6 separate regions of the Homo sapiens genome follow, and regions 1, 3, 4, 5 and 6 are each reported to be linked to region 2. Evidence: microRNA targets listed by miRTarBase, many of them from high-throughput screens and not tested one by one. Region 2 holds a microRNA gene; each other region holds the end of a gene's coding sequence.
Evidence for each region. The annotated mature microRNA hsa-miR-6840-3p reads GCCCAGGACUUUGUGCGGGGUG and lies in region 2 at 3,491-3,512, shown strand. An mRNA with a match to its seed (bases 2 to 7 or 8) in the 3' UTR can be bound and repressed. Matches are read on the target gene's strand: a 7mer-m8 pairs with bases 2 to 8, a 7mer-A1 pairs with bases 2 to 7 and ends in A, and an 8mer does both.

Region 1 (4,840 bases), not on the chromosome of region 2:
AAGTCCTAAAGTTTAAAAATACCCACCAATATTACAGGCATGCTGCTTTATAAAATATGCCCTAAAATTCTAGCCAAAATACTTCACTTTCTGTAATACTTAATATGTGAGATAAAACTTTTTAGCTCAATAAAAAAGTATTTAAAACAACTCATGTTTTAAACACATTAGTCTACTCTAAATAAATGTATACTATTGTACTTTAAAATGTATCAAAGTAAGGTGTTTTCTATTTTTTAACCATCCTCAATTTTTTTAAAATTAACCAATCTTATTTCATCTCTAAAGGGCTTAATCACATGAAATGAACAAATTCCTCTAAACATTTTCCTTAAGGAAAAACTGAAAGGAGATATAGTGAAATGGTATATGACAGCCATGGTAACTCTAAGGTATACATAAGCAGGGGAAAAAATGCTCAAAATGTAACAAATTCTGTATATAAACAGTCATGCCAAACACAGATTTGTACCAATAAGGATACTGAATTAGATGTTAACAACAGTGTTTTCAGAAAAAGATACAGCAATGAGTAAAAAGCACTATGCTATTACAAATGATTTACAGAAACAACTAATTAACCTAACATAAATCCCCTTAAAATGCAAACCATACATAATCTTAACATGAATTACAGAATAAAATATTTTCCTAGTAAATTAGGTGTAAAAATCCAAACTTGCTTTTTTAAATATAACACCCAGAAAATAAAGAATACTGTTCCTTTTTTAACATGTATTTCTCAAAATAAGATTCACCATGAACATTATTTTAGATATTTTTACATCTTCTTTAGCTAACCAAGTGAAAAATCCAATATACACAAATAGGTACTTTCATCAGTACATAAAACAGCAATAGGTAGCAAGGATAGAAATCAGAATACAAGTTCAATTGAATAAATACAATACTAGTACAGAGACACCCATTTTTAACCCACAATGAAAAATCTGAGCCATGAATAGGTTTTCCATTTTGAATCTAACTTCTAGATGATCTGTATTTTGACCTTAAAGGGGCCAAAATATTTAATATGGGTGAAGCTCATGTTCCATTACCTGTAAAGGTCTAATGCAACAGAAAAATGGTCATTTTACATTGGTTAGAATTTTTAACTAGGTCTTTCATATTATTTTGTTTAGCACATGACAGACTTATACACATATTTTAAAAAATCAAACATGGAATTTCTATATACATCAAACCTTTAACAATGTCTGTCTCTGAATTGCTATTATAGTGTTCAAAATTATACAAACAAACATCCAGTAAACAGCATTTTATTTTATGACACTCTGTGTTAATACAATAAATATACAAAACTTCCAACCCACTGAAACATGCAACATTAGAGGGACACATGGAGGGCATTTCTGTAGAACCATGACAGTCACCATGATGGCAGCGCAGTATTAGTTACTGACAAAATATACAAACATCTCTAGATAAATAATCCAAGTCCCAAATTACAAATCACTGAGTAATGACTTTCCGGTGTTCAAACTTTAGTTTGAAATAAAATTGCCATAATTTAATATTACAAAATGATAAATGACACGGATGACTGCTGTGTGAAGACCATTTTATGACTATGATTTCATGACTGTGATTTTAGTACTAAATATAGAACACTTAACAAATGCCAATCTTTTGCTGAGTGAAAATTTAACAATTTACTGAGAGAAAAGTAAATATAAGAATTTAAAGTTCCTTTCATACTTGATCATACTATAAGCATTGCCATCATTTCAATGCACATATATTTTTAAAAAACAATTTTCTCTCTCAAACTCATATTAAATAACTGGATTTTAAAACATTTTCCCCATCCACACAAAAAAAGATATGTGGGTTCTAATTATTCTTTGCTATTTAATAATGCTACCTTTGAAGATTTCTACATAATATAAACATTCCAATTCTGAAGCAAAGTATTTCAGCATTTTTCAAAAGTCTCTAATATATCTTTTGTTTGTAGTGTACAGGAAAAAATGGACTTGGGATATAAGTTAATGGTGAATATAGGTGCACTTGCTGTATTTTGTGGTTAATGTTTTGAATGTATGCAAAATCCACACTCAATAAAGCACACTGATAAAATAGATTTCCAATAAGACTACAGGCTCTGAAAAACAAACTGGCTAAGTTGGTTGAGAACATAGGTAGAAATTATCGCTGATTAGAAATATTTACAAAAAATAGCTTTAAATTCATACGCTGAAGAATAAAAGAAATGTCTTCCAAGTATACCTGATGTCAATAAGATCCCAAATAAATCAAATGTAAACACCATCTGGATGGATCTGTGTTACCTAGTGACATGCAGCGCTGCTTCATGGATAGTGAAAACTTGGCATCCCACCTCTAGCATAAAACTTTTTCTGTAACTACAGGTTTGGGGAGAATGAAAGTGATTTAACTATTTATGCCTATCTGATTTTTTAAAAAATAAGGATTTCCAGCCTCTAATATCACAATCCTTACTTAAAATCTAATTGAATAATCACTATCATTCTGCAATCTTAATTTAGTTAAAGACTTTCAAAACACAGCAGCATGACTTACAGATGTCTTTGAGTCATTTATTTAATCAGTGGTAAAATTGATTCAAAGGTTGAACCCAAGAATACTATAAGAATGAAGTTCTGTGCTGCATAGTAACAATTTTAACGTGATTATCTTAATGCAGTTAACTGTATTTATATTTTCTTGCTTGGTGCAAGTTAAATGCTTTTTTTTTTATTGCTGGAAATTTTAGATATATTCAGTCTGTCTCAAAAAGTGAAAGACAGGTGCATTTAGGGATTCAAGTATGTGAAAAAATGCCAGGGTCTTTTTATGTTTAATGCCACTGGAGATGAAAAGCTAAAAGGAAAATCCCTTAAATACTGTACAATCTTTTTAGACAACAGTTAGGCTAGCCTTTAATACCTCTGTTAAAAATCACACACACACATCCCCAAAAAAGAGCTGCCAGACACAATCTTAGTTGTAACCACAGAATATACCAAAGTTTTCATATAGCAAAATGTTACTATATGACTACCGAAATTTTTTTAAAAAGGAATTATTACCACTACTTTCTACTGCATTAACTACCTTCTCTTTTGGATAATGTACTGCATATTATATAAACTTCTTATATTGCACCCCCAAACTTTTTATTTAAAAGAAATTCTTGCAGAATATCATTTCTGTGATTCCATTAACCCCTGAATCCTACAACCATAAGCAGTACAGAAGCCAAAACACTAATTCTTTTAATATAAGAAATGTGGTGCCCATGCAAATTAGAGATTGTTATCAAAATATCAGCTATTCTAAAAAAAAGAAAAGAAAAAGATGACAAATTTTACATTATCTACTACAAAATGCACATAGGCTCTTCACTGGTGACTGAAACAGCTAAAAAGCAAGCCAATTTAAAATCCCTAAGTCTCTGCTGGCCTATTTCTTTCAATATAAATAGGGAAAAAGGAATGAAACATGGTTTACTTTTCCAATGTGCAATCCTTATCTCTAAAGATTCTTGAAAGAACTACTGCAGTTAGTATTAAATGCGTTTTTAATCATAAGTACCATTATTAATTTTCAGTGGGTCACCACTGAAATAATTCACTGAATGTCATCCCCCAAAAATATGGAGAATATTTATTTAGCATGTAATATTTTTTCTGCAAGGGGCACTGAAATATTAAGAAACTATTAGGTAAAGTAATAAGACAAGGAAGTTTTCCTGGTTTTAGCCCATGCACAAGTGAACAGGAAATATCCATGCTGTCTGTACTGTGTGTTTTGAACATAAAAATATTTGTAGAATACAGTAACTGGAGAAAAAGGTACAGTCAAAAGGTAACAGTGTATTGTTTGAAGATTCTTAAATCTGGTTACCCTTGAAAGCATTCTGAGCTGCACTAGATGCTGCAGTTGAAGCTGCATTTGCAGCTGCGGTCTGGACAGTTTTGTTGGACATCACACCTGTTGCAAACTCCTGTTGGGCCTTCTCAAAACTAGCACCTGTTGTGCGATATAGTCCATGTACCTACAGAGGCACAAAAAAGTGGGAGAAGGTAAGTAGCAACCTACGCATTCATTTCCAGCAGCTCTTAATCTCAACATTAATCAAACATAAAAATACTAGATTGTAGTCATGATTCCTAAGATCAAGAATATTAGCCACCAAACTGACACACAATAATTGTATTTAAACATTTTCTTAATATAGGTTTTCCTTTTCTTCTCCAAGCAGAAGAGATAATTATGCTAATTTAAACCAAAAATAAAGAACTTCTTAGCCAACTTCAAAAAGTTGTATTTTCCTCTGCACCCAATTAGTCAAGTGAAATTATTACAGCATTACAATGAAATGGTTTAAACATAATAACAAGAAACAATACATTAATTTATTACCCCAGACTATTCAGAGAGAACAGTACCTTATCTATTTCCATTTTATCTACATATACACCACAGGCCCTGTTATAATCAAATGAGATCATTTTATCATTTAATGTACCAAGCACTACTTATGTCCTTCAACATATTGCCGCTATGCACTCTGTATACAATTTAACTTTTTGTGTATGGTCAAGTCCTAAAGAATGCACAAAGAAACACTTCTGGGAATTGTTTCTCCATACTGATTAATCACTCAAATCTTGGAATTTATTTTCAGGAGTAGGGTTCAAAAATTTTCTATCAGTATATGTCTTAAAACCTGCATAATTAAACTATGAGTCCATCAATACATAACATCAGCCACTTATTTTAACACAAATTTGAAGAAGGAAATAACAAACATTTATTAATTATATGCCCACAAACTTCGCAGAGTGGGGAC
Region 2 (4,840 bases):
CCAGCCCTGCCCCTAGGCTCCAGCCATCCCACACCAGCTCCTAGGCACTGAGAGCACGAGCATGGGTGAGGAGGGGGGCTGCTTTGGGGATGAGGTGGCAGGGGTAGGGGGGGCCAGGGCTGGGCCCAAGCTGTACAGACTCACTTGATCCTCCTTCCCCCGCGCAGGCACCCAGCCAGGCCTCCCAGGCTGCTCTCCACGTCCCTTATGCCACTATCAACACCAGCTGCTGCCCAGCTACTTTGGACACAGCTCACCCCCGACAGGGGGCCGTCCTGGTGGGCATCACTCCCCACCCACACCGCACACTGGCCCCAGGGCCCTGCTGCCTGGGCCTCCACATCCATCCCTGCACATGGCAGCTTTGTCTCTGTTGAGAATGGACTCTACGCTTAGGCTGGGCAGAGGCCTCCCTGCACTGGTCCTGGCCTCACTCTTTTCCCTGACCCTTGGGGCCCAGGGCCATGGAGGGACCCTTAGGAGTTCAATGAGAGAGACCATGAGGCCACTGGGCTTTCCCCTTCCCAGGCCTCCTGGGTGCCACCCCCTTACGTTATTCTTGGGCCTCTAATAAGTGTCCCACAGGTGCCTGGCCAGGCCCACCTGCTGCAGATGTGGTCTGTGTGTGTGCATGTGTGGGTGTGTGTGGGCACAGGTGTGAGTGTGTGAGCAACAGTACCCCATTCCAGTCGTTTCCTGCTGTGACTAAGTCAGCAACACAGTTCCTCTGACATGGGCCTTGGCTGTGCTTCTTTGGGGGTGAAGAGATTGGGGAGGAAGTCTCCACCCCTGGGAGGCAGAAGCCAGGTGAGAACCAGAGTGGGTTGGGGCCTCCTTGCAGGGCTGGGTTTGGCCCAGGGAGAGGGCAGTGTCCCAGTCTTAGAGATCTGTCCTGGCTTCTTGGGGTGGCGGGGGGTTGGGGGAGCTTCCTGAGGGACACCTGTGGCTTCCTAGACAGAATTGGGGGATCCCAGCGGGATGGTCCCTGCTGCAATCCCACCATGTCCTAGGACAGCAGCAAGGGTTCCTGGGGCTTCAGCCTGAGAAAAGTCCCTGTGATTTGACCTGGCGTCCCTCTGCCGGGCTCCCTGCTGTGGCCTGGGCTAGAGTCCTGATGCCCTCCTTCCACAGCTGGCATCAGGCAGGGCTGGAAAGTAGGAGGACTTGCCTGAAATCTGGCTGGATTTCAGAGCCTTGCTCTGTCACCCAGGCTGGAGTGCATTGGCACGATCTTGGCTTACTTCAACCTCCACCTCCCGGGTTCTAGTGATTCTCCTGCGTCAGCCTCCCGAGTAGCTGGGACTACGGATGTGCACCATCGTGTCCGCTAATTTTTGTATTTTTTTTTTTTTTTTCAGTAGAGACGGGTTTCACCATGTTTGGCTGGGCTGGTCTCGAACTCCTGACCTCAGGTGATCCACCCACCTTGGCCTCCCAAAGTGCTGAGATTACAGACTTGAGCCACGGTGCCCCGCCTGAATAGGAGCTTCTTAATCAAAATTTCAGCATGGCTCTGGGTCAAAATTGACCAGCTGATTTAATAAGTTGATGTAAAAATTTTACAGTCAGCTACCCCTGGGAGGGGGAGTCTCTCCCTAGTCAGTGAGGCACCAGATGCCAGAGCATTGGCAATGTACAAGGGGCTCAGCCCTGTGGCTCATATGTGTAATCCCAGCACACTGAGAGGATGCCTTGAGCCTGGGAGATTGAGGCCAGCCTGGGTAACAGTGACACCACGTCTCTGCAAAAAAGAAAATTAGGGGAGAACTGTGGTGCGTGCCTATAGTCCCACCTACAGGCAGAGCGAGACCATGTCCCCCACTAAAAAGAGGCCAAGAATGCAGGAAATATAGATAATATGGGCCCTGTGATGGGTGGAGGCCAAATAGATCAATACAGAATTGAAGAAGACACAGAGCACTTGTATTTCCCTTCAGGCATAGCGCGCTGGCTAGGACTCCAGTACCGTGAAGGGAGGCAGTGAGAGCAGACATCTGTGCCTCATTCCTGATCTCAAGGGGAAAGCAAGAACAAGGTGGGTGCCAAGGAGGGGCAAGGGGCTGGGGCAGGCATAGACGTGGCTGGTGAGGAAAGGAGGATAGTTGTTGGGGGAAGGTGGGGACATACAAGCAGCAGTTCTCAAAATGGGCAGGGTCCTGGCCCCCTCCCTGCCTCTGCTGAACACTGCATCCCATGCCTCTCCCATGGCCACCTGCTGGGCTAACGGGCTGGATTTAGACTCTGCCCATGTTGGAATCATGCCCTCCTCCAGGGCCGGTGCCTCCCAAAACCCCCCTCTGAGAGAGAGCCACAGCCCCAGGCTTAGCCCCAGGCCCTGTCACTGCTGTTGGGGGAGGGAGGATGAACCATCCGGGAGGCCTCACACCATTCCAGAGCAGAAATCCTGACACAAAAGGAATCTCCCATGGGGGTTCAGCTGGGTCCAGAGCCCGGAAAGTGACATAAACACGCACCTTGCATCTAAGGAGAATGCACGTGGCGGTACCGGGCCTGAGGCCCCTGGGGAGTATGTACCCTCCAGAGCTACCCAGAGGCTGTTGGCTAAAAGTTCTATGTGGCCCCCTCCTTGGGCAGCCTGGTAAGCAGGTGACCTTCTAGCTGGGTCCCATGGGCCACGGGCAAGGCAGGAATGGAACGAAGAGTCAGTCCTCAGTGGCTGGGTGTTGTATCCCATGCCTATAATCCCAGCACTTTGGGAGGCTGAGGTGGGCAGATCACTTGAGGCCAGGAGTTTGAGACCAGCCTGGCCAACATGGTGAAACCCTGTCTCTACTAAAAATATAAAAATTAGCTGGGTGTGGTGGCACACACCTGTAATTCCCAGCTACTTGGAAGGCTGAGGCAGGAGAATTACTTGAACCCAGGAAGCAGAGGTTACCGTGAGCCAAGATCACACCATTGCACTCCAGCCTGGGCAACACAGCGAGAATCCATCTCAAAAAAAAAAAACAAAAAGTCCTCAGGCAGGGTGGGCCACCCTCTTGAGGCCTTGCCCAAACAGCCAGGGGGTCCCTTGTCCTCTTTTCGGCCCACCTTTGCAGGTGGGACCAGTTCAGTCCAAAGCCCCGGTGCCTCAGTTTCCCTGTGGGTTGAACAAGGAGAATGAGGTGTATAGGGCCTGGCTCAGACGGAGGGGTTTCCTGAGCATGGGGAGCCTGTTTCCTCAGACCTGTGAAGGGAAGGAGGGTGGATCGGCCTGACTGGCCCTGGGAAGCACAGAGGAGCCTACTGGGACCAGGGAAGAGACTGACAAGAGAAGGGAGGCCTGTCCCTGCCTGCTTCTGTCTCAAGAAGATTGTTATCACTTCCTCTGGTGAAATCCTGCCTTCCTGTCCCCACGGCCCCTCAGCTGATGCCACCTTACTCTGGAGAGGATGGGCAGAGCCTCCTATGGAGGGAGCCCTGTGGGTCACCAAAGCTCCAGTGACCACCCCCGGGCAAAGACCTGCAGATCCCCTGTTAGAGACGGGCCCAGGACTTTGTGCGGGGTGCCCACTGTTGCTCTGAGCCTTCACTTCCTCAGGGAGGCTTCCTCAGGATCTCGAACCTGCGGAAGGAGGACCAGTCTGTGTACTTCTGCCAAGTCCAGCTGGACATACAGATCAGGGAGGCTGTCGTGGCAGTCCATCAAGGGGACCCACCTCACCATCACCCAGGGTGAGTCCAGCTGCCCTGGCACCAAGGAACCTTCCTGGTTCAGCCATAGGCTCAGGTGTGTGGAGGGAATGACCTGAGGGGCTGTATGAGGGAACAACCTCCTGGGGCTCCCCTATGCCTGAGTTCCTGCAACTCAGAAGTTGAGGCCCAGAGATCCAGGTAGAGGGGGCTCCAGTCCTGGGACTGCCCTGCAAGTCATGTGGCCTGGGACAGGGCTTCTCCAAGCTCTGTCCCCTCCTGTGTAGGGCAGGGAGGTCAGAGGGGACCCTGCAGATCCAGTCTCATGTCTGGGGGTCAAGGGGTGGCCTCGAGAGGGACCAGTCTCTGTGTAGGGGACCGTCAGCCCCCTCACCCCTTGAGCAAGACTGTGGTCCCTGCACCAAGGGAGCAGGCCTGGGGTGGGAAGAGGCCAGCTGGGCTGTGGTGGTGCCTGGGGACTGCATGGGAGCCCCTGCCAGGGAGGGAGAGGGACAGAGGACAAGCTGGGGGCTCTGGTGCTTGGGCTGGGGGCTGAGCGCCTGTGACCTCCACTGGCTTCCTCCTTCTCCTCTCTGAGGACTGAATCTGGGGTGCAGCAGAGCACAGACTCAGGCCCGCCTTTCCTCTCCCTGAAAGAGCCTGCGCTGGCCTTGGACAGAGAAAGGGATGAGAAGTGAGGCTGAGTGCGGTGGGGTCTGCAGGGATCCAGGTGGGAGGGGCCCAGCCAGCCAAGGTGAGGCCCAGCCCCTCAGCAGGAAGATGGGCACTGGGGCCCTTGGGCAGGGCTGACTTGACACTTTTGTGTGACTTGAGCCACTGTGCCCAGCCTGAACACCCTTTCCTGGTAAAACACTCCACAAACCAGGAAGAGAAGGAATGTACTGCAACAAAATAAAGGCCAGTCATGCAAGGCCCATGGCTGAAAGTCTTTCAGTCATTTTAGATGAAAGACTGAAATCTTTGCCTCCAAGATCAGGAACAAGAGAAGGATGCCCGCTCTCACTACTTCTATTCAACACAGGATTTGAAGTCAGGCCGGGCACAGTGGCTCACGCCTGTAATCCCAGCACTTTTGGAGGCTGAGGCGGGCAGATTACTTGAGCCTATGAGTGTGAGACCACCCTGGCCAACATGGCAAAACCCCATCTCTACTAAAAAAAAAAAAAAAAAAAGGATTTGAAGT
Region 3 (4,840 bases), not on the chromosome of region 2:
ACAAGATGGGAGGAAAAACATTCAACTATTAAAAATGACTGAGTAGTGGCCCAGCGTGGTGGCTCAAGCCTGTCATCCCAACACTTTAGCAGGCCGAGGCGGGCGGACATTCTGAGGTCAGGAGTTCGAGACCAGCCTGGCCAACATGGCGAACCCGTCTCTACTAAAAATACAAAAATTAGCCAGATGTGGTGGCAGGCGCCTGTAATCCCAGCTACTCGGGAGGCTGAGGCAGAATGGCTTAAACCCAGGAGGTGGAGGTTGCAGTAAGCTGAGATCGCGTCACTGCACTCCAGCCTGGGTGATAGAGTGAGACTCTGTCTCCAAAATAATAATAATAATAGTAAGTAGTGAAATTGAGATTTTTTATCATTCTATTTTTCCAAACTTTCCAAATAGTCTACAAAGCTGTTTGTTAAGTAAAACCATTTAACATACCAAGAATTCTTGGAAAAGAATGTACACCTCAATTCTTTAACTTCCTTACATTTCTCAAAGGTCACCCATTTCATATTTTGCTGAAACTTGCTAGTTCCCACCAGCTAGAGCCTGTGTCCAGTCATGTTGTTCTACCTAACTTGGAGCAGCAAGGAGAGGGAGGAGCCTCCTTCCACCAGCAAGAACTCAGGTTGGGGTGGCAAATAGGCTTTCTCTTCCACAGCAATTTTTTCAGAAATTACATCTCAAACCTTTCAAAAACTAGACTGGCCTACAGAGCAGCCAATTAGTTTAAGTTTTAAGCCACATTATTGTCTGAGTATATTATTAAAAGTGCCAATTTTTAGATGGTTATATCAAATACAATAAAACACAGTCACAGAACTGCTTGGTGCAGTATATATAAGCCTGAATCATGAGAAAGTGATGTAAATCTGCCTTAGAATTCAAGCTTTTCAATTCTATCCCCGTTTTATATTTTCAATACTGTGATTAAACATTATACAAGATAATTAATTCTATTATCCTGGTTGCTTAACAATCTTTGGGATTGGCAGGTGTTTGGAGAAAGCTAATGTATCTCAATCGTTTGAGACTATGAATGTTGACAACAGGGATCCCAGCTATCATTGATTATGCTAGCATTTATTAGGGTGCCCGGTCATTACACTTATTCACTAACACAGCTGCAAAAATCCTACCAACAATACAAATGGCTCTGGGTTTTCTATAACCTGTGTCTGTTCTCTCATCAGTAAAATGGGAATAAAGCTGTTGGAGTTGCTGGGAGGACTAAAACAAATTTGGTGGAGTCAGGCACACAGCCAATCAAGTGTACTGTGGTTAAAATTAAATTTTTTTTTTTTTTTTGAGGAGTCTCACTGTCACTCAGGCTGGAGTGCAGTGGTGCAATCTCGGCTCAGTGCAACCTCTGCCTCACAGGTTCAAGCGATTCTTCTGCCTCATTCTCCTGATAGCTGGGATTACAGGTGCATGCCACCACTTCTGGCTAATTTTTGTTATTTTTAGTAGAGACGGGGTTTCACCATACTGGTCAGGCTGGTCTCGAACTCCTGACCTCCGGTGATCCACCTGCCTCAGCCTCCCAAAGTGCTGGGATTACAGGCGTGAGCCACCGCGCCTGGCGGTTAAATTCTTAAAAGGGAGTTCAACTGCCAGCTTTGCCACTTACTAGTTCTGTGACTCCTCTTCTGCAAAACACTAATTAAAAATTTTTTATACCAAGAACAAGTTAACTGGCAGTGGGGTACAGTAAAGGTGTTATGAAATCCCATTTTTTTTGCCTTTTACCTTAAGGGGTATTCTTATTTTTTAATTATTTTTTAGGCAGGGTCTTGCCAAGCTGCCCAGGGTGGTCTCCAACTCCTGTCCTCAAGTGATCCTCCTGCCTCAGCATCCCAAGTGTTGAGACTGGGACTATAGGGGTGAGCCACTGGGTCTGGCCTAAGAAAAGGTGTTTTTTTTTTGGAGACCGAGTCTCGCTCTGTCGCACAGGCGAGAGTACAGTGGCGCGATCTTGGCTTACTGCAACCTCTGCCTCCCGGGTTCAAGCAATCCTCTTGCCTCAGCCTCCCGAGTAACTGGGATTACAGACGCATACCACCACGCCCAGCTAGTTTTTTGTATTTTTAGTACAGACGGGGTTTCACCGTGCTAGACAGGATGGTCTCGATCTCCTGACCTCATGATCCGCCCGCCTTGGCCTCCCAAAGTACTGGGATTACAGGCATGAACCACGGCGTCCAGCCAGAAAAGCATGTTCTTATGTATAGCTAAGCGGTAACTCTCCTCTGCTTAAGTAGTTACATCATGCCAGTTAGTAGGTAAATTTTCCTCAACTGAGGAAAATAGTCAAAATTTACTGAACTCCCCAGGTACTTTCAGCTTCTGCATTCCATGATGGCTCAAGGTCTCTGCTCTCTACTCAGATTGGAATAAAGCTTGTTATGGCTTTAAGAGATGGTGTTGGCCGGGTGCAAGGGCTCACGCCTGTAATCTCAGCACTTTGGGAGGCCAAGGTGGGCGGATCACTTGAGATCAAGAGTTCAAGATGAACCTGGCCAATATGGCAAAACCCCATCTCTACTAAAAATACAAAAATTAGCCGGGTGTGGTGGTGGGCGCCTGTAATCCTCAGGAGGCTGAGGCAGAATTGCTTGAACCCAGGAGGTGGAGGTTGCAGTGAGCCGAAATCGAGCCAGTACGCTCCAGCCTGGGCAAGAGCAAGGCTCCATTTCAAAAAAAAAAAAAAAAAAAAAGGTTGTCAGCCAACAGGTTGGGCAGAAGAATGGCTCATGCCTGTAATCCTGGCACGCTGGGAGGCTGAGGCAGGCAGACTGCTTGAGCCCAGGAGTTTTGAGACCAGCCTAGGAACATGGTGAAACTGTTTCTCAAAAAACCAAAAATGAGCCAGGCATGGTGGTGCCTACCTGTAGTCCCAGCTACTTGGGAGGCTGAGGCAGAGAATCACTTGAGTCCAGGAGGTGGAGGTTGCAGCAAGCCAAGATTGCACTCCAGGCTGGGCAGCAGGAGTGAAACCTTGTCTGAGCTGGCAGAAACACTACATAGTTCCCAAGAAAAATGAGGTCTGTATTTTAACATTCTGGCCTGGATAATAAATCCAATGTAGATCAGAAACTATACCCTTGACCCAAGGTTTTATATATAGTAGCTCACTCATTTGTTAAATAAGGAGTTCTGAGCTCTCCAAGATACCATTTTTGAACTGAAGTGACCTAAAAGAACAGAGGGTTTAAAAACAATCTTAAAAAGGTTCCATTCCAAGGAACTAGAATACCAAGGTTTCTATCCTATGAAACTTGCTGACGTAAAGGAGATACCATAGTAAGGATCAAAGGGATATTAAAGTTTCAAATAGAAGGGCCATTCCTCCCAAACCACCCTGAAGTCTCAGCCCACAAAGAGAAGGACATTATGCTCCAATGCAGCGGTAGAGCTGTCACCAAAAAAATTCTGGCCATCAGTGACCACCAACTGTTTCTTCAGAAAAAGTAACCCACTGGCTGGGTGCTGCGGCTCGCACCTTAACACCAGCACTTTGGGAGGCCGAGGTGGGCAGATCACCTGAGGTCGGGAGTTTGAGACCAGCCTGACCAACATGGAGAAACCTCGTCTCTACTAAAATATACAAAATTAGCCAGGCATGGTGGCACATGCCTATAATCCCAGCTACTTGGGAGGCTGAGGCAGGAGAATCACTTGAACCTGGAAGGCAGAGGGTGCGGTGAGCCGAGATCCTGCCATTGTACTCCAGCCTAGGCAACAAGAGAGAAACTCCGTCTCAAAAAAACCAAACCAAACCAAAAACAAACAAACAACAAACAAAACAAGAAAAAGTAATCTGCTAAAAACTATAGGGTCCCCAAATACCATACAGAAACAAAATCTGTATACTAACACATTACAACAGAAAAAAAAAAAGTCATACATACAGCGTCTTTTCATTTTTATTACTCAAAAAAGTTTCATTTTTTTATTTAGCTTTCTGACTCTGTGCTTGTGCCTTCAACACTTTCACAACGATTTTCTGCTCCTCGATAAGGAAAGCACGCTTGATCCTAGAAAGGAAAATACCAAATTAATCATTTCTTTAAAATGAACTTCATTTTTTATTTAGCACAGAGAAGGCAAACATGGTAAAGAACCAAGCAAAGCAATCAGGGAACCCAGGAAACTACAGGATACACAAATACAGAGTAAAACTTAAAAGGTGAAATTCATTTAAAGCAGGATAATCCTTCAATTTCATGCCAGTAGTTATCTGTCCTCCTTCTGAGTCAAGATAAACTATGAAGTCATCCCCACAGGAGACCACTTATGAGAGCTCTAATTTATTGTTAGGATCCAGGAATAGTGGTATTTCTTGATTTGCAAAATGTCTTAGAATATTTTAACCATATTTTTGAAAATTCCCAGTAAAAAACAACACATAAGGGGCTATGTGTTAAGAACTAAAATTAAAAGGTAAAGGGATATTAGCAAGAGACACCTCACCAAGAGCAAGGATTTTAGAACCTGTTTACGGCCAACTCCACCACACACTAGCTGCACACTGGACAAGTTACCTTCTCTATATTAAGGCACAAAATAGTTTCACACGTATTTAACAGGGAGTTTATGAGGATTAAATTTGGAAAGATTTTCTAGACTTTGAGCCTCCATCTAGGAGTGCATTTTATGGATCACTATCATTACAGTGTTGCACAGGACCTAGCAAAAAGCAGGTCTTCCTAGCATTTGTTAAATCAGAGTTACCACCAGAGTTTAAAGCACTCCTCTTGCTTCAACTTAAACCTTCCCCCACCCCATTTCCCATTGGTAAACCTGGTTATCAAACCCTACCCTCAAAACTCTGGGTTTT
Region 4 (4,840 bases), not on the chromosome of region 2:
AAAATTAACACCCAATATGGTTGACTGCTGCTGGGCAAGACCTAAGAATGATAGAGAAACCATTTGATTTTGAAAAACATCCACTTCAGCAGGTTATTATATAATTACATGTTCACAGTTAAATTTATAAGTTAAGAGATTAAAGGAAAGTAGTAATAGCTGAGAGCAGTTTTTTTCATGAAGATACCAGATGTCAGCAAAACTAAGGCAGTGTCCTGAATTTTGCACAAGAATGTTAAGCTATAAGCAGGGCAAACATCATGGAGGTAGAAAACCTCTACCAAAATCCAGTCCAGATAAGACATCAGTTTTCTACATTGTGACTCAATGTGTAATCACCTTTTGGAGGTGGAAGGGGTATATGAGGCCAGTGGGATCTGATTTTTCAGGGCAGTCATAGCTCAAGGACTGAGCTGTTCTGGTTTTGTTTTTCTTGAAAACAGCCACCCACAACACTATTTAACAAACCAACCGACACTTTAGCCATACTCAACTGAAAAAGTAAAATGGTTTACAGAATATTTCATACTACCCAGGTACTGCAATACATGTTCAGGAATTCTGAACATCGATATTTGTGAGTACATGAATGCAGATATTTTTCTGGGAAGTTAGTTCATAGCTTTCATCACCTTCTCACAGGGGTCTTTTACTTCCAAAAAGTTAAGACTATAATAGAACTCACTAAAATTATGTTTTTAATAATGAATCACTGTATATATATATATGGATATTTCAAAATTCACTTGCTAAAAATTACTTGCTTGAAATCACGCCAGGGAGGCAGTTTTAGAGTAGACTGTCAGGTTGTATAACAGCCTGTTATATAGAACTAAACATAATACTTTAAAAAGAGAAGAATCCTATATATGATGTTACAAGGTAAATAGCTATTTCCATATTTTAAAAAAAAGGAAAAGATCACGAGATGACATTTTATTCAAATATATACATGCATTTCTACCTTAATATTTGTGACCAACATTGTGTGAGACCAACATTTGTGACCTAACTTCTCTACTAGGATCTACACACAACAGAAATTGTTTATAAAACTTTGCTTTTTAGATTAATTCTAAAATAATTTATAGTCACCTGGAATATTTATGCACAATATAAAGAGGCTCTAGATGATTTCATTATATTCCATATTTCTGTAATTTTATATTACAAAATAGTAAGTGGGCTCATTATTTAATTTTTCCAAAACATAGCTTTATTACAGCTTACTGTAAATCAGATACACCTTTCTCTGTAAACATTTTGTATGCTCATTAAAAGTTTGCTTCCCTAAATGGGCATGATGAACAAATATTAGCAAAATTGCTCAAGAATATTTTCCTTTGAAAAACGTATTAGTCTTTGAAAAATTACAGGTCTGTTCTAAAAAATGCTGCAATATGGCAATTTTAAAGTCATTCATTCCATCAAAAATATTCCTATTTTAAGTAAAAAACCTGATTTTAATTTGTCCCTACGAAAAGCCTAAGCACTGTCATACTTAGAAAAACTAAAAGATGGTAGAAACAATTAAGATCTAATGATCCTAATGTTCAGATAAAACTGGAGTGTTTATGTCCTCAATAATGAAGTATTTCCTTACTTTAGAGAAAGTAATCTAGCATCTGACTTAAGTGAATAAAGCTGAAATATTCTTTTGCCAGTGTTCAGGTAAATCATACAGATCAAGGAACTGACAAGCTAACTGTATGTACTTCTGGTAACAGGTGAGTGAACAGTTAAAATTATTAAAAATATGTAATTCCAAGGCTGAATATGCCATTCCCTCAAAGTAAAACCAGTCATTTTAAAAGCAAAAAAATTAAAAAACAAACAAACCCTCTAATGGTCAATTCAAACTGGCTGCATAAATTGAGTTTTAATGGCTACAAAATCTTTCAAATTGCTAAGAGCACATTTGATTTAACTGAAGGACTGTATTTAGGATGCAAAAAACCCCCCAAAACCCAGATTAGTGGCAATGTCCCATGTGACAAAAAGCTTTTAGACAAAATGACAGCTGTCTTTAAAAAAGTGCAAAGACCAAGGAGGGCAGATCATGAGGTCAGGAGATCAAGACCATCCTGGCTAATATGGTGAAACCCCGTCTCTACTAAAAATACAAAAAAATAAGCTGGGCGTGGTGGCACGCGCCTGCAGTCCCCGCTACTCAGGAGGCTGAAGCAGGAGAATCACTTGAACCCAGGAGATGGAGATTGCAGCGAGCCGAGATTGAGCCACTGCACTCTAGCCTGGGCAACAGAGTAAGACTGTCTCAAAAAAAAATAAAATAAAAGCAAAGAGACGATACCATTCCCCCATCCTCCAAATAGCATCCAAGCAAATTCCAACATCAAGATGCAATCAATTTCCAAAAAATTTATTTATACTCTGTATTAACCAGTGTTTCTCTTTTCCATCCTCACTCCCTAAGGAGTCTTTTTACAATCCTAATCAACCACCCCCAAAATTTTAATACCACAGATATGGTATCTGTTTAAGTACTGTGTGTATATTCATGCTTTATACATCAAGTTTTTGTCCCCCAGAACAATCTTGACAAGGACTGCGTGGCGCTAACAATGAAAAGTTTATAGTATTAAAACTTTTTTATTTGAATAAGTGGGGAGAAGAGAAATATATTTCAGCACTTAGATATATAAATTATTTCCAAAACAGTTTAATACTCAACTAGTCGGTTCTATCAAAATCAGTTTTCCCTGAAGTAAGCACTGTTCCCAGCTACAAGCGATCCTCATTTCACATGGTACTGTGGGACCATAAAAATGGTCCTGCAATCTTAATAATCAATAGGGAAAATGATGATTGTTCCATGACCTTTAAGGTTCTGCTCAAATATTAAAAACTCTTAAGACCAGTTATAAATGTAGAAAAAAATGCAAAAATGTTTAAAAATATTTAGTACACTGTAATTTAAAACATTAGAAATAGAATTAAAGTGTTTTATTTCATTGTAAAAACAAAGTAGTTTGAATAGGGCTTGCCTTTTTTTCTGGCAAGTAACTTACCATACTGAGTAAGCATCTTTTATGTTCACGGCAAACTGCCATACTCCTTCTAAGTTTGGGTCAGCTTCCACCCTTTTATTGCTTGTGCTTTCAATGTTGTGAAATATTTCTATATTCACATTAAATATCTTTTAATGTAAAGTTTTTTTTTTTTAACCATCACTTCCTCTGGGACGTATCTGTCTTTATTGCAACCACTTTGCTTATTTGTGTTGGTAAGTTTGCCTTCACTAAGCTCCTATGAATACACAGCAGCAAGAACAACATTCCCATGGTCAGTGACTTCTTCTACAAATTCATTTATGTTTGATTAAAATTTCACTTCCAGTGTTATCATTTTTCATTGCTTTGCTGCACTTTCATCTTTGTTGACCAGTTCTTTCGAGTGTTCACTTCTATAGAATGTCAAGTAGATGACAGAGAGACAGCATAACTACATGCTCTGCTGTACGTGAACTGAATTAACAGATGCACAGGGACAAACCACTGGAAGAATTTGAAAGAAATAACATGACTGGTCACAATCATGAAGCATATCTGTTATTTACATAGCGATTTGTAGACTGAAGAGCTAGCAGAGAGGTTTGTACTTCATGTAATTACTCAGTTACAATGTGCTAACTAAAATTTTAACCTAGATTTTAACAACAACAGTTTCCTTACCAGTTTTCTTTCCTTCCTGGTAAGGAAACTGGTATTTAAACTAAATCTAGGTCACTGAAATTTGTGCCCATGGGAAACATGCAAATAGAGGACTGCCTACACCCTACTTGTTTATATTGATCCAGACAGGCTTAACGCTGACTACTGAAAAATAGCCTATCTGAATTTATATCAAATAGTGAATCTTAAAGCACCCAAGATGAAAAATTAGGGCACACTGAGATGGTTTTAAAATCTTTGTCATATGATAATCAAGCTTAAAATGTATCTTAGAGTAACAGATTTTTAGAAATAAAGACCTTTAAAGGCTCCATAGTTTGGTACCGCAGATTATCCAGCATGTTTATTATGAATTATTTCTCCTCCTTCAATTTCAATTTGCTCATACAGCCACTTGCGGTCACAGCGGCATTCAGCTCCACACTTGGTAGAACCACAGGCAGGACAAGCATAGAAACATCCTAAGCAGTCTTCATCCAGGCAGTCACAGAGGTCCATCCCACTAAAAATCAGGAGACCCTGGCTATCATAGACCTTACTCTTTGCTGGTATCACTTGTCTGTAAAATAAAACACAATGAATTATACCTCATAAATATGTTATTTTTGATTTAATTGAAAATACAGTAAAAAAAAAAAAGGAGATAAAATATTTTTAGATGAGGTCATGCCAAAATCATCTATAATTTATCAGGCTCAAGGCTTATTCTATCGTCAGCAGTAAATGAACTCCATGTGAGAAGAGGAGACCTAACTCTATAGAGTGTTGAGACAAATCTAAAAATTCTGAATACGCTTCTTGAAGTGCATAATTTTCCCTTTACTTTAAACAAACAAAAAAGAATGACAGGTTAATAGTGGTTCACTTTATTAGCTACCAACCTCTTCACTGTTTTATCAACACAGTTTTATTTTTATTATAGTATACCACCTCTATAGATTTTTATACTACAATTAATGTTTCTTGTTCTTTAATGGACTCTAGTAAATTTGGCCTAAAAATATTTAAATGACTCAATGGTAAATTTTAACAGATGGAATACATGGCATATATAGAAATGTTGACTGAACTTAGAAAAAAAATTCTGAATGATTATATTAACATTTGTTTTAGAGTCATATTCTAAACAATTTAGTTCTCCCATTCAT
Region 5 (4,840 bases), not on the chromosome of region 2:
TTCTCCCTATCATCACAGCATAAGCAGATTGGAACTTTATCCAGCCACTTATCGCATTTATGAGGCCTCTCAACTGGCTAGCTGCTAAAACCCATCATTGTTCATTGCTCTAGGGGAGCATGGGCAATAGGACTGAAGATTAAAACAAGCGGGGGATAATTTTTAGAGACAAAGAAAATTTCAAATCTCAGCCACCTCTTAGTATTTTGGAGGGAGCTCAGAAGCAACTTTAGCCCCAGGAGAATAATGCCAAGTAACAGGCCTGATTCTGTTATCACAAACATGCCTTACCACTGTGGTAGATGACACTATATTATGGCTCAATATCATTAAAATGTACTAAAGACCAAATTCAGATTTATTTTATTTTATTTATTTATTTTTGAGACGGAGTCTCGCTCTGTCACCCAGGCTGGAGTGCAGTGGCGCCATCTCGGCTCACTGCAAGGTCTGCCTCCGGGGTTCACGCCATTCTCCTGCCTCAGCCTCCCGGGCGCGGTGGCTCACGCCTGTAATCCCAGCACTTTGGGAGGCCGAGGCGGGTGGATCACGAGGTCAGGAGATCAAGACCATACTGGCTAACACGGTGAAACCCCGTCTCTACTAAAATTAAAAAAAAAAATTAGCCACGCGCGGTGGCGGGCGCCTGTAGTCCTGGCTACTCGGGAGGTTGAGGCAGGAGTATGGCGTGAACCCGGAAGGCGGAGCTTGCAGTGAGCCGAGATCACGCCGCTGCACTCCAGCCTGGGCAATAGAGCGAGACTCCGTCTACAAAAAACAAAAAAAAAGGTAGTGACGGAGTTTCATCGTGTTAGCCAGGATGGTCTTGCTCTCCTGACCTCGTGATCCATCCTCCTCGGCCTTCCAAAGTGCTGGGACTACAGGCGTGAGCCACCGCGCCCGGCCTCAGATTCAGATTTAAAGGTGACTCAGAAGTGTCATATCTTGTTTGTTAAGACTAGGTTGTATAAAGGGAACAAAGTTGAAGGCAGCCTGTATACAGATTTTCTCCAAAATGAGGGAAAGGAGCAGATCTATTTCTTTTTCCTTTTTTTTTTTTGGGGACGCTCCGTTGCCCAAGCTGGAGTGCAGTGGCGCGATTTCGGCTCATTGCAAGCTCTGCCTCCCGGGTTCACGCCATTCTCCTGCCTCAGACTCCCAAATAGCTGGGACTACAGGCGCCCGCCACCATGCCCCGCTAACTTTTTTGTATTTTCAGTAGAGACGGGGTTTCACCATGTTAGCCAGGATGGTCTCGATCGCCTGACCTTGTGATCCGCCCACCTCGGCTTCCCAAAGTGCTGGGATTACAGGCGTGAGCCACTGTGCCTGGCCAGCACCAACTTTTAAAAGAGACCGAGTCTTGCTCTGTCGCCAGGCGCGATCTTGGCTCACTGCAACCTCCACCTCCTGCGTTCAAGTGATTCTCCTGCCTCAGCCTCCCAGGTAGCTGAGATTACAGGCGCCTACCACCACGCCCAGCTAATTTTTTTGTATTTTTAGTAGAGACAGGGTTTCACCATGTTGGCTAGGCTGGTCTCAAACTCCTGACCTCGTGATCCGCCCGCCTCAGCCTCCCAAAGTGCTGAAATTACAGGCGTGAGCCATGGCACCCGGCCTGGCACCGACTCTTAATAATAGCAACACGGCTGTCAGCCAACCAATGGTGGAGGAAACAGCAGGAGAAAAAGCAGAGCAGCTGGTCTTCCCACAGTGGTCAGTTTCCGCAGCTGTCAAGAGTAAAATAATCAGGAGTGACTGCTGGGTAGAGGCAGTGATGGTGGGAACCTCCACTTGAAGTCTCTTTGAGTACTGCAAAGGGCAGTGGTTGTAACTCTAGCAGGCATCAGAATCACCTGCAAGGCTTGTGAAAATAGATTGCTGGGCTCCAACCTCAATTTCCAATATCGAAGATCTAAAGTAGGGTCCCATAATTTGCATTTCAAGCAATCCCTCTGGTGAAATTGATGCTGCTGATCTGACACTTTGAGAAGCACTGCTTTGTGGGTATTTCTGGCTCTGTGCCATTCTCTCTCAACGCTCCATTCCCTCTTTCCTACTATCTACTGAGTCCCACCCATCTATTGCTTTATTTCTTCTCCACCATCCCTCTCTTAGTCTCTGTTAGGAAAACTAAAAGGACAGAAAACAGGAATGAACATTAGGGTAGATTTAAGAATTTCTTTGGGCAAGGATTCCAGCACTCTAGTCTGGTTGATAGGTGTTTTCAGAAGCAGAATTTATTCCAAATACATACATGCATCTTCTCCTCTCTACCTAACATGGAACAGTTTAATAAAAAGTAATAGATGCTTTCTCAGTAAGATTTTGCTTGGGGATTCAAAAAAATTGGGTAGGAAATGGTAGACATATTTCACTACATTAAAAAAATTTTCCGGCCGGGCGCAGTGGCTCACGCCTGTAATCCCAACACTTTGGGAGGCCAAGGCAGGGGGATCACGAGACCAGGAGATCGAGACTATCCTGGCTAACACAGATAAACCCCATCTCTACTAAAAACACAAAAATTAGCCGGGCGTGGCGGCGTGTGCCTGTAGTCCCAGCTGCTGGGGAGGCTGAGGCAGGAGAATGGCGTGAACCCAGGCGGCGGAGCTTGCAGTGAGCTGAGATTGTCCCACTGCCCTCCAGCCTGGGCAACAGAGCGAGACTCCATCTACAAAAAAAAAAAAAAAATTTACCAGCCAGGTATGGTGGCTCATGCCCATAATCCCAGCACTTTGGGAGGCCGAGGTGGGCGGATCACCTGAGGTCAGGAGTTCGAGACCAGCCTGGACAACATGGTGAAACCCCGTCTCTACTAAAAATACAAAAATTAGCTGGGCGTGGTGGCAGGTGCCTGTAGTCCCAGCTTCTGGGGAGGCTGAGGCAGGAGAATCACTTGAACCCAGGAGGCGGAGGTTGCAGTGAGCCTAGACTGCACCATTGCACTCCAGTCTGGGGGACAAGAGCGAGACTTCCTCTTAAAAAAAAGAAAAAAAAATTCCTTACTTCTCCTGGACTTTCAAAAAAGTTTTTATTGTAGTAAAACACAAAATTTACCATCGTGACCATTTAAGGGTATAGTTCAGTGGCATTAAGTACATTCAACTTTTTGAGCAACCGCCATCACCATTCATCATCCATCTCCGTTTTTTTGTTTTGAGATGGAGTCTCACTCTGTCGCCCAGGTTGGAGTGCAGTGGCATGATCTTGGCTCACTGCAACCTCTTCCTCCCCAGTTCAAGCAATTCTCCTGCCTCAGCCACCCAAGTATCTGGGATTACAGGCGTGCACCACCACGCCCGGCCAATTTTTTTTTGTATTTTTAGTAGAGATGGGGTTTCACCACATTGGCCAAGCTGGTCTCAAACTCCTGGCCTCAAGTGAGCCGCCCGCCTCAGCCTCCCAAAGTGTTGGGATAACAGGCGTGAGCCACCATGCCAGGCCATCGTCTCCTGAACTTTTTCATCTGCCCAAACTGAAACTCTGTACCCATTAAACAATAACTCCTCACTGCCCCCTCCTCCAGTCCCTGGCAAATACCATTCTACTCCTAGAGTACTTTCAGACTCAGTTTCTTCTTTCACTTAATAAAAGACAGGGTCCACTGCTGACTAATGGGATTGTTTCTATATTTGGAGGCCTTCTTGCAGACATGTGATTTGAGTTTATTGCAGAGAATGGTAATAGGAAATGGGATTGTACAAAGAAAAGAGATGGAGAGAAAACTGGATGAGGGTTTCGCACTGGGTGTCCCACCCACAGGCCTCAGCAGCCCTGCCACGGATCTGCCCGATTCTTTCGCATCAAGAAGTTGATCTTGCGAGCCATTTCCATGTTGTAGATCCGCCGGCACCTTTCATAGCTTTCCCTCTGTCGCCGGCAGCATGGCTTCTCATAATACCGCCGATGCTTAATGTCCTCAATGAGCCCATCCATAGTGAGGATTCTGTATAAAGGCAAGCAATGAGGTTAGACATTTGGGATCATCATTATTCTTTTCCAGTTTCATAAATAGAAGTCGATTGACCAAACAATTGGTATTTATAAAAAATACAGTGGGAAATGGTGGCAATAGAGCATTAACTGCCTACTTACAAAGGCCTCAATAAGAATCTGTGGGCCGGGTGCAGTGGCTCATGCCTGTAATCCCACCACCCTGGGAGCCCAAGGTGAGCAGATTGAGCCCAGGAGTTTGAGACCAGCCTAGGCAACATGGCAAAACCCTGTTTCTACAAAAAATAAAAATAATTAGCCAGGCTTCGTAATATGTGTCTGTAGTGCTAGCGACTCACGAGGCTGAGGTGGGAGCATCACTTGAGCCCAGGGGAGACTGAGGCTGCAGTGTGCTGTGTTTGCACCAGTGTACTCCAGCCTGGGTGACAGAATAAGACCCTGTCTCAAAAAAGAAAAAAAATATTGTTCAGCATGGGCAACACGGCAAAACCCCGTCTCTGCAAATAATACAAACATTAACCAGGCATGGTGGTACATGCCTGTAGTCCCCTCTACTCAGGAGGCTGAGGTGGGAGGATCAATTGAACCTGGGAGTTCATGGCTGCAGTGAGCTGAGATCCTACCACTGCATTCCAGCCTGGACAACAGAGTGACACCTTGACTCAAAGGAAAAAAAAAAAAAAAAAAAAAAGGACTGGGCACAGTGACTCATGCCTGTAATCCTAGCACTTCGGGAAGCCGAGGCAGGTGGATCACCTGAGGTCGGGAGTTCGAGACCAGCCTGACCAATATGGTGAAACCCCGTCTCTACTAAAAATACAAAAATTAGCTGGGCATGATGGCGGGCGCCTATAGTCCCTCCCAGCTACTCAGGAGGCAGGCA
Region 6 (4,840 bases), not on the chromosome of region 2:
CTGATTGACAGGGTGAGCTCACCAGCTCTTATTCTATGCTGACTGACAGGGTGACAGCTCAGGAGGCTCTTCCCAGAGTCTCAGTTTCCCCCATGGCTCCTGTACACCAGCCAGAGCATCGAAGATGGACCTGAGTTTTGCTCTAGAGTCTAAGGACAGCAAAACACAGGCAGACTCTTTCCTAGAGAGACAGTCCACTTCAGACAGCTCTGATGAGGGAGTGGAAACATTACTCTTAGGGCCTAATTAAATCAGGCCATCTCTGGAGAAGATCTAGGACCACAGACCAGCAGCATCAACTGGGAGCTTGCTAGGAATGCAGACTCTCAGGCCGCCACTAGGCCTGAAGAATTGTAATAAGGAGGTCCCCAGATGATTCATGCCCATTAAAGTGTGCAAAGCCCTGCTCTTGGATAGTAGATGGCAGAATGTGGTTCCCCCAGGCACACCACCATCACCTGGGAGCTTGTCAGAAATGCAGAACCTCAGGTCCCACCCTGACATTTTGAGCAGTTTTGAGCAGGAATCTGCCCTTTGCCCAGGCCCCAGGGTATTCGAGTGAGCAGCACTGCTCCAGGGCCCTGAGGGCCGGCAGCTTCCAGGAGTTCTGATTTCTCTTTGCTCCTCTGCTCTCTCCACCTGGCAGATCTGCGGGATGGTTCTCACCTGCTGCTTGCACCAGAGGCTCCAGCGGCATTTTTACTAATGGCCAACCACCTCCTCTTCCAACTGCCCCTCAAGACAACATGTGGCCACATGCCATCTGCAAGGCCTGCAGAGTTAGCACCAGCTCCACTAGGGCCATAGATGCCCCCTCCTTTGTGCCTAGCTCCTGCGAATCCACCGAGTGCCTGAGACCATAGCTTCTGTGCCCACCCAGGCAGAGACCCTCGGCCCCCTCTCCTCCATTTCTGAGCCCCCATGGCCAGATCCTGGGCAGGGAAATGATCCTTTCAGGAGACAACCAGAGCCCCTCACCAGGAACGGGGGCACCCGTGGACTACGGGAGGGTGGCGGTTGGGTTCTCTGCTCCCTCCCAGCTCCTGAACCTGGAACAATCGGCAGAAAACCCAGGAACCCCGGCACTCCTGCATTCAGCACGGGATTCCCCCACCCATGCCCAGAAGCCCTGACCTTGCTGTTTCTGGAAAAAGCATGGGGTGGGGCAGGGAGGGCTGGCATTTCCCCCAGAAGACCTTGCCCTTTGACCTGCCCACTCTCCACACTGCCTCACCTGGAAAGCCATGTCCTGCTGGCCTCATTCCTTCCTGAAGGGCCTAGGAGTGGGGAGGCCTGGGTAGGGCAGCCACAGGCTGGGTAGAGCCGCCCTGGCAGGAAGCAGGGGGTAAGGTGGCCATACCAGCACATGCTGCACTAGGAGCAGAGCCCTGCACCTGCCTAGCTGCCTTCCTGGGAGAAACCTCCCTGGGAGACCATGGCCCCAAGCCCTGGCCTCTAGTGATACGCCCCTCGGGAATCTCCTGTTCCGGGGCCTGATTCTCAGGAACACCAGGTTTCAGACCATCTTCAGCACCTAATGTTGATGGGTGTCAAACATCTCCTGGAGTGGACCAACTCGCAACCCTGCAAAGTCGGAGCTGCTGAGAAGGGGCAGCTCTGAATAGAGGGGCATCTGCCTGAACCTCACTTTTCCTGGGGCCCTCTCCTTGACCCCGTAGCCACCACCACACTGCTTCCAGGGGGTCCAGCTCTGCTTCCCTTCCCACCTGTCCTAGAGTGGACAGAGCTTTTTCCTTGGGTTCTCTCTTGCATCACTAAGTTCAGCAGGGAATTTGCGGAATTTTCAGGAAGAACTTTCCCCAGTAATAAGGGAGAACAGAAAGAAAATCCTAGAAAATACAGAGTATCCATGCTGGCAGCTTTTTGTACAACACCCATAGGGACCCCCCCAAATGGCTATTACAAAGGGGCAGCCCATTCACTACACAAGAACCCCACACCTGGCTTCCACCCTCCCCAGCTCCTGCACTTCTCCCCAGAGCGGGACCCTCTTACTTCCCCCCATGAAGGGGGGCACCTTGTGCTAAGGCCAAGGCTGAGCGAGGTCCCAGCTCACCTCCCTGCTTGATCCAGATTGCACTGTGATGAGCACATTGCTGACCTAGGCCAGTCCTGGGGCAGGCGTGCTCTCTCTCCCATACATAGGAGTGGCCTCAAGGCCACCCAGTGCTGACCCCAACAGAGCCCTGAACTGTCCAGAAACTGCATCCTCAGCACAGGAAGTACCCACATGGACAGAGGGAAGCCCAGCCTCGGGGCCGGTTGCCTCCTCTTCTCTGGGTGTTCTCCAGTGGCTTCTTGGAGCCTAGGCTGGTTTATCTCCCCTGCCTAAAAGGCCCTGGGGTTGCCAATGCAAATTCATTAAAACGAAGACCAGATATCCCAGACTGCACAGAGGCCGAGAGAAATGGTATAGTGCGTGATTAGCATTGCTGCCCTCCAACCTCCTGGGATTCATGCAGATAATCAAAAACTGACTATGACTCCCAAGTTCTCTGAAGGATGAGATCACAACTGACAACTCTTACGACAGAGGGAGAGTGGTGAGAGAGAGAAAGAGGGTACTGGGCTAGAGCCATGTTCTTCCTGCCGAGGTGCCAGGGGGAGGCGGCAGTGGGCAGGGGGTGCTGGGGCCTTACCTGTCTGCCCTGGTGGGGATGAAAGACAGGTGACAGGCAGGTGCCCTGTGCACAGCCTTATCATTGAAGGCAGGCCCAGGACAGCCTGCCCCATCTGCCCCAGCCCCATGGGATGGTTGGTCCAGCCTGACTGGGGCAGGATTAGCTGCAATTCCTGCCCTGTGTGTCGTCCAGCCAGACTGCCTCTTGAAAGATGGCTTGTCCAAGCGGCAGACAGTGGTAGAACAACCCAGGGCTTGGAAATCTGACCTCCTTGTCCATGCCAACAGCCTGGGAGATGAGACAGGGTTAGAGGAAACAGAGGCCCAGGATACGGCAGGTTCTGCCTGGGAGTGTACAATGGTTGGAGTCCAGAGCCAACGATGTGGTCCCCAGCGGGGTGTGCCCCTCCTGCTGACGAGGGTACAGATCCATACCCAGGTCAATTCCTCCCGGGCCCCTGTTTGGAGGCTGCTACAGCCTTGAGTTCCTTGGAGAGAGAGGACACGCCTGTGGAATGTCACCTTCAGTCCCGTGCAGGCAAAAGGCCCCTGCACACCAGGGCCCTAGGAAAGCAGCATCAGGTGCTGGGATCCCACCCAGCTGGCACGGGCACGTTCTTGCCCTGCACACTCCATGCTGCCCTTCCCTGAGCTCGCAGGGGCAGACACCAAGAGAAGGGCGCGTCCCCGAGTCCCCTGGGTGACCTGTGTCAGGACAGCAGGCAAGAATGAAACGTGGCCTTGGCTGACGGGTTGGAATATTTGTGACCGTTCTTGTCTTTCTCCCTCCTGCTTCCCCGGCACCCTAGCCCCATCTCCAGGAGCCCCTCAGGCAGAGTAAGTGGGGAGTGTGTCCAGGGATTTTTTTGTGTTTACCAAGGTCCTGCTGTGCACTTAGAATCTGTCACCATAAATACTTATCTCGCAGTTACCCCAGCAAGAGGGTGTTATTTCCCCCATTTTATAAAAGGAAATTAAGGCTGGGCAAAGTTAAGACTTGCTTGTCAGTGGTCATGGCTGTTGTCTTGCCACCCCCAGCTGGGGAGAAGGAAGAAAACTGGGCCGGGAACCCCTCCCCTCAGTGTCCCCCAGTTCTCCATCTCCATAAGGAGCCATCAGGCTGTCATTAAGGAACAGAGTGTCACTCAGGGGGCACTGTCACAAAGCAGCACCCATGGCACATGGGCCGGGGGTGCAGAAGCCTGGCTTATTTCAGGCTGACAGCTGGACCCTCTGGGTGCAGGGGCTCAGGCAGTGGCCAAGAGCCCAAAGGGCTAAGGCCCGTGACGACCACCCAGCCCGTCACCCCAGGTACAAACACTGACCCCAAAGCAAGAGCAGGGACTGTCCCTCAGCCCTCAGGGCCTTCATGCAGGGTGCAGAATCTCATGTCCACATGGAGGTCACCCCTCAGGTCACACCCACTCCCAGAGCAACCCTGGGCAGGGAGGGGCACCCTGGGGTTGTGTTGACCACCTCCCCTTCAGGTGAGGCCCTTTTCTGCCTTCTTTCTAGCCCCCTGCATGGGGCACCTGCTATTGCTGGGGCTCTGGGGTGGACCCTGTGTGATTTCTGTCAGGGAGCTTGTGCTGTGCATGGCCAGAGGTGTTTACATCCAGAAGGGCCCAGCACGGCCCTGTGGGGTGTGGGGGGAATATGGTAGATCATTGTGATGTGCCTCGGGGCCCTCTTGCCTTGGAGCCAGCTTTGTTTCAGAATCTGCTACTTGGGCCCTCTTCAGGGTTTTGAGGCTGGAGAAGTGAGTTGGGACAGTCACTGTCATCACCACCCACCCTGTCACCCACCTGGAAAACATTCTTGATATACTGGCCATGCTGGGCCGGGCTCACATCCACTGAGGGTATAGTGACCAAGCGTCTAAACCAGTCGTTCTCAAACTTCGGTGAGTATCAGAATCACCTGGAAGGGCTTTTACAAACAGATTGCTGGCCCCACCCCCCAGAATTTCTCATCAGGAGTGGGCAAGACCAATCATTTGCATTTCTGACAAGTTCCCAGGAGCTGCAGCTGCTGGCCCTGGAACCACACTTTGAGAACCACTGCTTTAGACCAAACACCAAAGGAAGATGCAGCCACCCTCCTTTACATGTCACAACGCTCAGGGTCCATGAGTACCTCAGGCTGTCCAGCTGAGCTCCACCTGCAGCAGCCGAGATTCCCGACTCGCTCCACCATTGG

Region 1: miRTarBase lists SCAMP1 as a target of hsa-miR-6840-3p. The part of its 3' UTR that is shown has no 7-base or 8-base seed match.
Region 3: the mRNA of RPL34 is a reported target of hsa-miR-6840-3p. The part of its 3' UTR that is shown has no 7-base or 8-base seed match.
Region 4: the mRNA of ARL14EP is a reported target of hsa-miR-6840-3p. The part of its 3' UTR that is shown has no 7-base or 8-base seed match.
Region 5: the mRNA of MRPS21 is a reported target of hsa-miR-6840-3p. The part of its 3' UTR that is shown has no 7-base or 8-base seed match.
Region 6: miRTarBase lists TSPAN11 as a target of hsa-miR-6840-3p. Seed matches in the 3' UTR shown: 7mer-m8 at 931-937, 8mer at 1,409-1,416, 7mer-A1 at 1,425-1,431, 7mer-m8 at 1,652-1,658, 7mer-m8 at 2,132-2,138, 8mer at 2,467-2,474 and 2 more.

What each region holds. Positions count from the first base shown.
Region 1 is chr5:78,474,706-78,479,545 of GRCh38, reverse strand. SCAMP1 (secretory carrier membrane protein 1) reads right to left here. Exons shown (of 9, transcript NM_004866.6): 9 at 1-4,042. The coding sequence ends at 3,878. Among named protein-coding and RNA genes, the nearest start is that of SCAMP1, 120 kb to the right of the region's middle.
Region 2 is chr7:100,353,206-100,358,045 of GRCh38, forward strand. MIR6840 (microRNA 6840) reads left to right here and starts at 3,446; the gene lies at 3,446-3,516. It overlaps STAG3L5P-PVRIG2P-PILRB (STAG3L5P-PVRIG2P-PILRB readthrough), which reads left to right. Exons shown (of 17, transcript NR_036570.1): 10 at 5-65; 11 at 168-278; 12 at 1,938-2,035; 13 at 3,545-3,678. It also overlaps the pseudogene PVRIG2P.
Region 3 is chr4:108,624,325-108,629,164 of GRCh38, reverse strand. It overlaps RPL34 (ribosomal protein L34), which reads right to left. Exons shown (of 5, transcript NM_001319236.2): 5 at 3,795-4,037. The coding sequence ends at 3,953. Among named protein-coding and RNA genes, the nearest start is that of RPL34, 6.2 kb to the right of the region's middle.
Region 4 is chr11:30,335,978-30,340,817 of GRCh38, reverse strand. It overlaps ARL14EP (ARF like GTPase 14 effector protein), which reads right to left. Exons shown (of 4, transcript NM_152316.3): 4 at 2,595-4,251. The coding sequence ends at 4,023. Among named protein-coding and RNA genes, the nearest start is that of ARL14EP, 15 kb to the right of the region's middle.
Region 5 is chr1:150,307,157-150,311,996 of GRCh38, reverse strand. It overlaps MRPS21 (mitochondrial ribosomal protein S21), which reads right to left. Exons shown (of 3, transcript NM_031901.6): 3 at 3,018-3,949. The coding sequence ends at 3,769. Among named protein-coding and RNA genes, the nearest start is that of PRPF3, 12 kb to the left of the region's middle.
Region 6 is chr12:30,991,210-30,996,049 of GRCh38, forward strand. TSPAN11 (tetraspanin 11) reads left to right here. Exons shown (of 8, transcript NM_001370302.1): 8 at 647-4,840. The coding sequence ends at 706. The region is part of intron 2 of TSPAN11-AS1 (TSPAN11 antisense RNA 1); the gene reads right to left. Among named protein-coding and RNA genes, the nearest start is that of TSPAN11-AS1, 12 kb to the right of the region's middle.